Linked DNA regions of Homo sapiens. The protein of the gene in region 2 interacts with the protein of the main gene of each other region in a pairwise test. Each region holds a gene or a part of one and is shown on either strand. Other genes may lie near its edges.

The links.
Region 1: the proteins of EPS8L2 (region 2) and RIN3 interact in a two-hybrid assay, tested with the Homo sapiens proteins (one large-scale study listed by BioGRID and IntAct).

What each region holds. Positions count from the first base shown.
Region 1 is NC_000014.9:92,684,781-92,687,137, reverse strand, and holds part of RIN3 (ras and Rab interactor 3), read right to left. Parts: intron 2,152-2,357; coding exon 1,988-2,151; intron 1-1,987. UniProt on the Homo sapiens protein: Ras effector protein that functions as a guanine nucleotide exchange (GEF) for RAB5B and RAB31, by exchanging bound GDP for free GTP. Required for normal RAB31 function.
Region 2 is NC_000011.10:724,646-729,104, forward strand, and holds the end of EPS8L2 (epidermal growth factor receptor kinase substrate 8-like protein 2), read left to right. Parts: intron 1-78; coding exon 79-184; intron 185-1,082; coding exon 1,083-1,202; intron 1,203-1,452; coding exon 1,453-1,525; intron 1,526-1,658; coding exon 1,659-1,839; intron 1,840-1,973; coding exon 1,974-2,106; intron 2,107-2,255; coding exon 2,256-2,336; 3' UTR 2,337-3,082; downstream 3,083-4,459. UniProt on the Homo sapiens protein: Stimulates guanine exchange activity of SOS1. May play a role in membrane ruffling and remodeling of the actin cytoskeleton. In the cochlea, is required for stereocilia maintenance in adult hair cells.

The DNA.
Region 1 (2,357 bases), on a different chromosome or scaffold from region 2:
GGCCCGGAGCGGCCTCGCCTTCCCCGGGGCTCAGGGCTGCAGGCAGAGAGGCTGCGCGCGGGGCTGCCCCCTTGTGGCCGGATTGGGAACAGCAGGCCTGCGCGGGAAGCGGCTGAGGATCCCGGCTCGGCGGAGACCGTGATGGCAACTGGTGGCTAGGGCTTAGGCGAGGCCGGGCTCCTGTCAAGAGCTTCACGGGGACCGCCCATTTCTTCCAGGAGGGGAAAAGCCCGGCCCACTCCCTCCGTCTTAGTGGCTGCCTCAGGGCTCCTTGTCCTCCATTAGGCCTCCCAGGGCACTATCCACCTGCTAGTGACTGTCCAGCTCTGGGCTTCCCCTCCCCAGGGAAGGGTGCCCACCCCCCAAGGCATGGTGTGCGGAGGAGGCACTGGGAGGGGGCAGAGGGTGGTGCCCTCCCCAGATCCCAGATGTGGTGCTGAGGGGACCCCCCTCCGAAGCTTCCGTCTCCCAAACAGTGGGTGGTCCGTTTCATCCATACTCTGCCTGGCTCAGCATCAGGAACCCCTAAGGTAGAAGCAGGAAGTACGGGATGCCTGGGCCAGGCTTGGACCAAGAGTGTCCATGTCCCTACAGTCTGTGGGAGTCCGGGGTGTTGGGAGGGGATGGGAACAGAGGTGTGCTGGAGCTGGCTCACACCCGCCAGGGAGAGCCGACTGCATACACTTCTTTCCAACTCCACATTCAGTGATGCCAAGTTGAAGTTGGCCATGGAGGACTCACACCATGGAAATGGACAGAAGCTAAAATCAGAGCTTTTGTTTTCTCCCCAGAGAGTCAGTTATTAAATTGATTAGCCATAGTCAGCCTGTGTGGGCAGGAAAACTGAGTCCCAGAGTGGGGCAGGGATTGCTGAGGGTCACACAGCAAGCTAGTACAGGGCTGGGGCCAGAACTCAAGCCTCCTGTCTCCCAGGCCTGGGCTCTGCTTATTATAGATGCACCATCTTGAAAGCCAGGAGTGTGGCTCAGGACTGGTCTGCTCTGGGTGTCAGAGGAGTGAGTCTGCATAGCTGCTCACAGCTCTGGATGTGCCTGGCTCACTAGTCCAACTCTCACCCTTTTTTACACACCCAGTCCTGCTCTGTCCCAGGCCCTGGGCTTGGCGCCCCTGAGGCATGTGAACCATGGGCTGTGCCCTCCCAGAGGTGACAGCTTCATATGCAGAGGATGATAGGATGTGATATGCACTGTAAAAGGGGAGGCCGCAGGAAGCCCAGAGGAGGGCACCCCACCCAGCCTGTGTGAAACGGTGTGTGTGTGTATCAGGGAAGGCTTCTCAGAGGAGGGGCTGTTGGAGAAACTGAGTCGTCTTAAAGGATGGGCAGTGACAGCCAGTGAAGAAGGGGAGATTGACCAGTGAGGGCAGCGGTTGAGCAGCCAGTGAACTGGGCTGGGCATGTTTGGGGAACTGGGGGCAGCTGGATTTGATGCAGCCTGGGGGTGGGTGGGGTGATGGAGTTGGGGAGGGGCGGGACTGGTTTGAATACTGAGTCTGTATAGAGAGAGGTATGGGGAGGGGTGGGCCACTGGGTTGGTGGGGGTTACGCAGACCCTTGGCAGCTGCTGCATTTGTCCAGGGACTAAGGAGCAAGGCTGTAGATGAGCCTGTGGGCTCCTTAAAGCAGGGACTGGGATGACAAGTCCCCATCTCCAGCCCCTGCAGGGTGCTGGGTCCTAGGAGGGGCTAAGGAATGATGGGTGTGTCTCATTCCTCCTGCACCCTTCCTGCTTGCCCAGGGAGAACACCAATGCCTGCTGATATGTTTCTAGACGCACCCAAGTCCTGGACACACACTGGCAGCAGGGGCTGGGGGCCCTTCCTCTGGTGTGGGGAGTCTCACTGCTCCCCTAAGGCAGGGCTGGGCGGCTGGAGCAGCCAGGTGATGTCACGGCTCCTTAGCCAGCAGGCAGCAGGGATGGTGTCTGGGACATGGCCCCACCGGGCCCCTCCCGCTCTCAGGCCTCACCTGTACGGAGGAGCGGGAGGCCCGGGCCTTGTTGAGAGTACGCCGGCGCTCCCAGCGGTGGATGGAGTCCTGCACCTCCACACTCAGCTGCCGGGTCACCGTGATCTTGTCGTAGCTCTTGATGTGCTCCAGGGCCCCGTAGGTGGTGGTCAGATAGTAGGAACCTGCGTGGACAAGGGTGTGGAATCTGAGCCAGGACCGCCTCCGCCCACCAGAGGCAAGGAGCTTGGCCTGCCCCACCCACCTCCTCCAAGCCCCGCCCACCACCTCTGCTTGAGGCACATCTGCAAACACCTGCTTCAACAGCTGAGCTCAACCCCACGCCCACCCTCCAGCCTCAGAAAGTTTCCTAGAGTCCAGCCCTGAGCTG
Region 2 (4,459 bases):
TGCTGCCCCCCAGCCACTGCCCAGGTCTCAGAGGAGACCCCCACCAGACTGGGCCTCAGCCCCTCCTGTTCCTCACAGGGGCTACCAGCCAACACCAGCCATGGCCAAGTACGTCAAGATCCTGTATGACTTCACAGCCCGAAATGCCAACGAGCTATCGGTGCTCAAGGATGAGGTCCTAGAGGTGAGGGGCTGGAGGACGGGGTCCAAGAGGGGGAAACAGGGCAGGGCTTCAAGGGAGGGGCTACCAGGGGAGGTGGGGAGCGGTCTAGGGCCAGGCTGGGTGATGCCAGGACGGGGCACAGCTGCTGGCCCCTTTCTCCAGGGTCCCCGCCCTTGGACTCTGATCAGGATCCCCAGCCTGTTGGAGGGGCCTTCCCATCTTGGGGCTCCCCAAAGGCATGCAGAGACCCCTGTGCCAGGCTGGGGGGAGCATCTGCACCACGTGGACTCAGCGGGGGCCTGTCATTCACACCCACCCAGGAGCCCCCACATCTGCACTGGCCGCATCTGCCAGCCGGAATCCAGGCCACCCACTGGGGGACAGAAAGTGGAGCAGGCTAGGGGGGAGTGGGCCACATCCACAGCCTGGCTCGGCGGCTCACGCCTGTAACCGCAGCACTGGGAGGCCAAGGCGGGAGGATCCCTTTAGCCCACGAGTTCGAGACAAGCCTGGGCAACACCTCAAAACCCCATCTCTACAAAAAACATAAAAATTATCTGGATGTGGTGGTGTGTGCCTGTGGTCCCAGCTACTCTGGAGGCTGAGGTGGGGGGATCGCCTGAACCCAGGAGGTCGAGGCTGCAGTGGGCAGTGATTGCACCACTGCATTCCAGCCTGGGCGGCAGAGTGAGACCCTGTCTCCGAGAAAAAAAGGGTCCCCCAGACTCCTTGAGGCAGGGTGGGGGAGGAGCAGCCCAGCGAGGGATGGAGGGGTGGAAACAGGGGTGCGGAGAGAATGGAGCGAAGCGGGGCTCCGGGAGACCCTAGGGCGCTCCCGACCTCTGTAAAGCGGCGCCAGCGGGTGGTCCCAGCCCCGCAGAGCCTGGGTGTGGGGAGGGGCTGACGGCGCGCCCCGCAGGTGCTGGAGGACGGCCGGCAGTGGTGGAAGCTGCGCAGCCGCAGCGGCCAGGCGGGGTACGTGCCCTGCAACATCCTAGGCGAGGCGCGACCGGAGGACGCCGGCGCCCCGTTCGAGCAGGTGAGCCCGCGGGGGTCCCTGGGGTCGCAGCCCCCAGCTTCCTGGAGCAGCCCCGCCTGCGCCTAGCCCCGCCCCAAGGCCAGCCCCGCGGCTGGAGAGACTGGGGCAGGTGCAGGGCTCCCTGGGCAGAAGGAAAGGGCTGGTCCGCAGGCCGGGGCTGTAGGGGGATTGGCGGGGTGGGGAGGTCCCGGGCAGGTGCTGGGAGGCGGGGGCGGGGCGTGGGGAGCCTAATCGCCCCCCGCCCCCGCAGGCCGGTCAGAAGTACTGGGGCCCCGCCAGCCCGACCCACAAGCTACCCCCAAGCTTCCCGGGGAACAAAGACGGTGAGAGCTGCTGCTTCGAGGCGGGGGTCCCGGGCCCAGGGCCACCTGGGGGAGGAAGTGTGGGGGGGGTCCCTGGGCCGGGGGCGGGGGCAGGGGCAAGGCAGCGGCGGGCCTGAGTCGCGCGCCCCCTCAGAGCTCATGCAGCACATGGACGAGGTCAACGACGAGCTCATCCGGAAAATCAGCAACATCAGGGCGCAGCCACAGAGGCACTTCCGCGTGGAGCGCAGCCAGCCCGTGAGCCAGCCGCTCACCTACGAGTCGGGTCCGGACGAGGTCCGCGCCTGGCTGGAAGCCAAGGCCTTCAGCCCGCGGTGAGCGGGGGCGGGGGATGAGCTGGGGCCCGGGCGAGGGGTGGGAGGTGCGGCCGAAGGTGCGCAGCTGTCGGGGCGGGCGCCAGGCAGCCTCGCTCACAGCGCGGCCCTGACGCCCAACTGCCCGCCCCCAGGATCGTGGAGAACCTGGGCATCCTGACCGGGCCGCAGCTCTTCTCCCTCAACAAGGAGGAGCTGAAGAAAGTGTGCGGCGAGGAGGGCGTCCGCGTGTACAGCCAGCTCACCATGCAGAAGGCCTTCCTGGAGGTGAGCCCGCCTGCGCTCCGGCGCCACGCCCCTCCTGCCCCTGCGCCCTCCTCTCCCCCGCCCGTTCCTGGGGTCGCAGAGCAAGGGGGAGGCCGGCACCCAGACACGTGGGACCCCCGGCTGAGGATGCCCCCATTTCTCCTCCCTAGAAGCAGCAAAGTGGGTCGGAGCTGGAAGAACTCATGAACAAGTTTCATTCCATGAATCAGAGGAGGGGGGAGGACAGCTAGGCCCAGCTGCCTTGGGCTGGGGCCTGCGGAGGGGAAGCCCACCCACAATGCATGGAGTATTATTTTTATATGTGTATGTATTTTGTATCAAGGACACGGAGGGGGTGTGGTGCTGGCTAGAGGTCCCTGCCCCTGTCTGGAGGCACAACGCCCATCCTTAGGCCAAACAGTACCCAAGGCCTCAGCCCACACCAAGACTAATCTCAGCCAAACCTGCTGCTTGGTGGTGCCAGCCCCTTGTCCACCTTCTCTTGAGGCCACAGAACTCCCTGGGGCTGGGGCCTCTTTCTCTGGCCTCCCCTGTGCACCTGGGGGGTCCTGGCCCCTGTGATGCTCCCCCATCCCCACCCACTTCTACATCCATCCACACCCCAGGGTGAGCTGGAGCTCCAGGCTGGCCAGGCTGAACCTCGCACACACGCAGAGTTCTGCTCCCTGAGGGGGGCCCGGGAGGGGCTCCAGCAGGAGGCCGTGGGTGCCATTCGGGGGAAAGTGGGGGAACGACACACACTTCACCTGCAAGGGCCGACAACGCAGGGGACACCGTGCCGGCTTCAGACACTCCCAGCGCCCACTCTTACAGGCCCAGGACTGGAGCTTTCTCTGGCCAAGTTTCAGGCCAATGATCCCCGCATGGTGTTGGGGGTGCTGGTGTGTCTTGGTGCCTGGACTTGAGTCTCACCCTACAGATGAGAGGTGGCTGAGGCACCAGGGCTAAGCAATTAAACCAGTTAAGTCTCCCAGGAGCCGTGTGTCTCAGTTCTCTGGGAGTCGGAGTGGGTCCTGGAGCCCCCGGAAACTGCACCTTTTCTAAGCAGTGCCGGGCAGAGGGCTGGCCGTCCGCCAGGCTGCTCTGCCCCTGAGCCCAGAGGGGACCCTGCCCACTTCTCTTCCTGTGGCCCTCCCAGGCCCAGCGACCAGAAGGCCCAAAGCGTGTCATCCAAGCCCGGCTTTCGCTGGGCACAACCCTAGTGGGAGCGGTGGGGACAGAGCCAGCTCGGCCAGACGGTCGGCAGGCCCCAGGAGGGCCATGAGTCAGAGGGCAAGGCTGAAACTGGATTTGGAGATCTTAGCCCAGGCTGACGGAGGCTCCCAAGAAGGGGGAGCAGGCCACACTCAGCACCCTGCGTGGGAGGGGCACCTGACCGCCAGATGGGCGGTCCACCTGAGCCGCACCCTTGGAGGGGCCTTTGGTGCCCTCTGCCGGCCGCTCCATGTGCTGCCGTGAGTGGCCGCCAGGGGTGCCCTCGCCCTGGATTGGTGGCAGGGGGCAACCCACAACCATGTGTCCCCATAGCAGCCGTGAACCCAACCCTGGTGCGGAGCATCCGGGGACACAGTCCTGGGGTCTTGGCCTGGGCAGGGGCGACTGTGGGGCTGGGCTGGGGGGGGCGTGTCCCTTGCCTGGTCCACCACCCAGCCAGGCCTGGACACCAGGCCACAGAAGCCCTGACTCACAGCTCAGGCCACACTAGGCCAAGTCTTAACCACAGTGTCTGGTCGGGGCAGCAGGGATTGTCTGGTGCCCTCTGAGCCACGACCCGGGCTTGATGGCCACCACCACTCCTCCAGGCCCCCGGAAGAGGCCCCCCCACCCTGTCAGATGGACCCTGCAGTGAGAGAGACAGGTCCAAGAGGAAAAGGGGAGGGATGGGGGCACCGGCCCTCCTCCCTGCAACCTGCAGCTCCCGCTGCCTGCTGAGCCACCACCTCAGGACGGGGATAGGCACCGGGGCTATATCTGCTCCAAAAGGGGCCTCTGTGGGCCCCAGGATGCCAGTCCTTGGAAGTGAGGGAGGCTGCCCACTCCCCAACCACTCCCAGCAACAGGACCCTTCCTCCACCAGGATGGTCTGGGCTTCATATGCAGCCTCCAGGCTGGGCTGCTCAGCTTCTGAGGGCCCCAGATCTACACCTGCTTCTTCAGCCTTCTCCCTGTCCACCTCCCCCAGCCCCATTTAGAGCCCCCTACCTGCTGTGCCCCACTCTGCCACCTGCACAGCTGAGGAGCCCCAGGAAGCCAGACCCCCAGACTCCAGCCCCCAGATCCCAGCCCTAGGCCCCAAGCAGGCTCCCACCCCAGGAGCCCTGAGTCCGAGGCACCCTGGCCCCAGCTGCCTGCT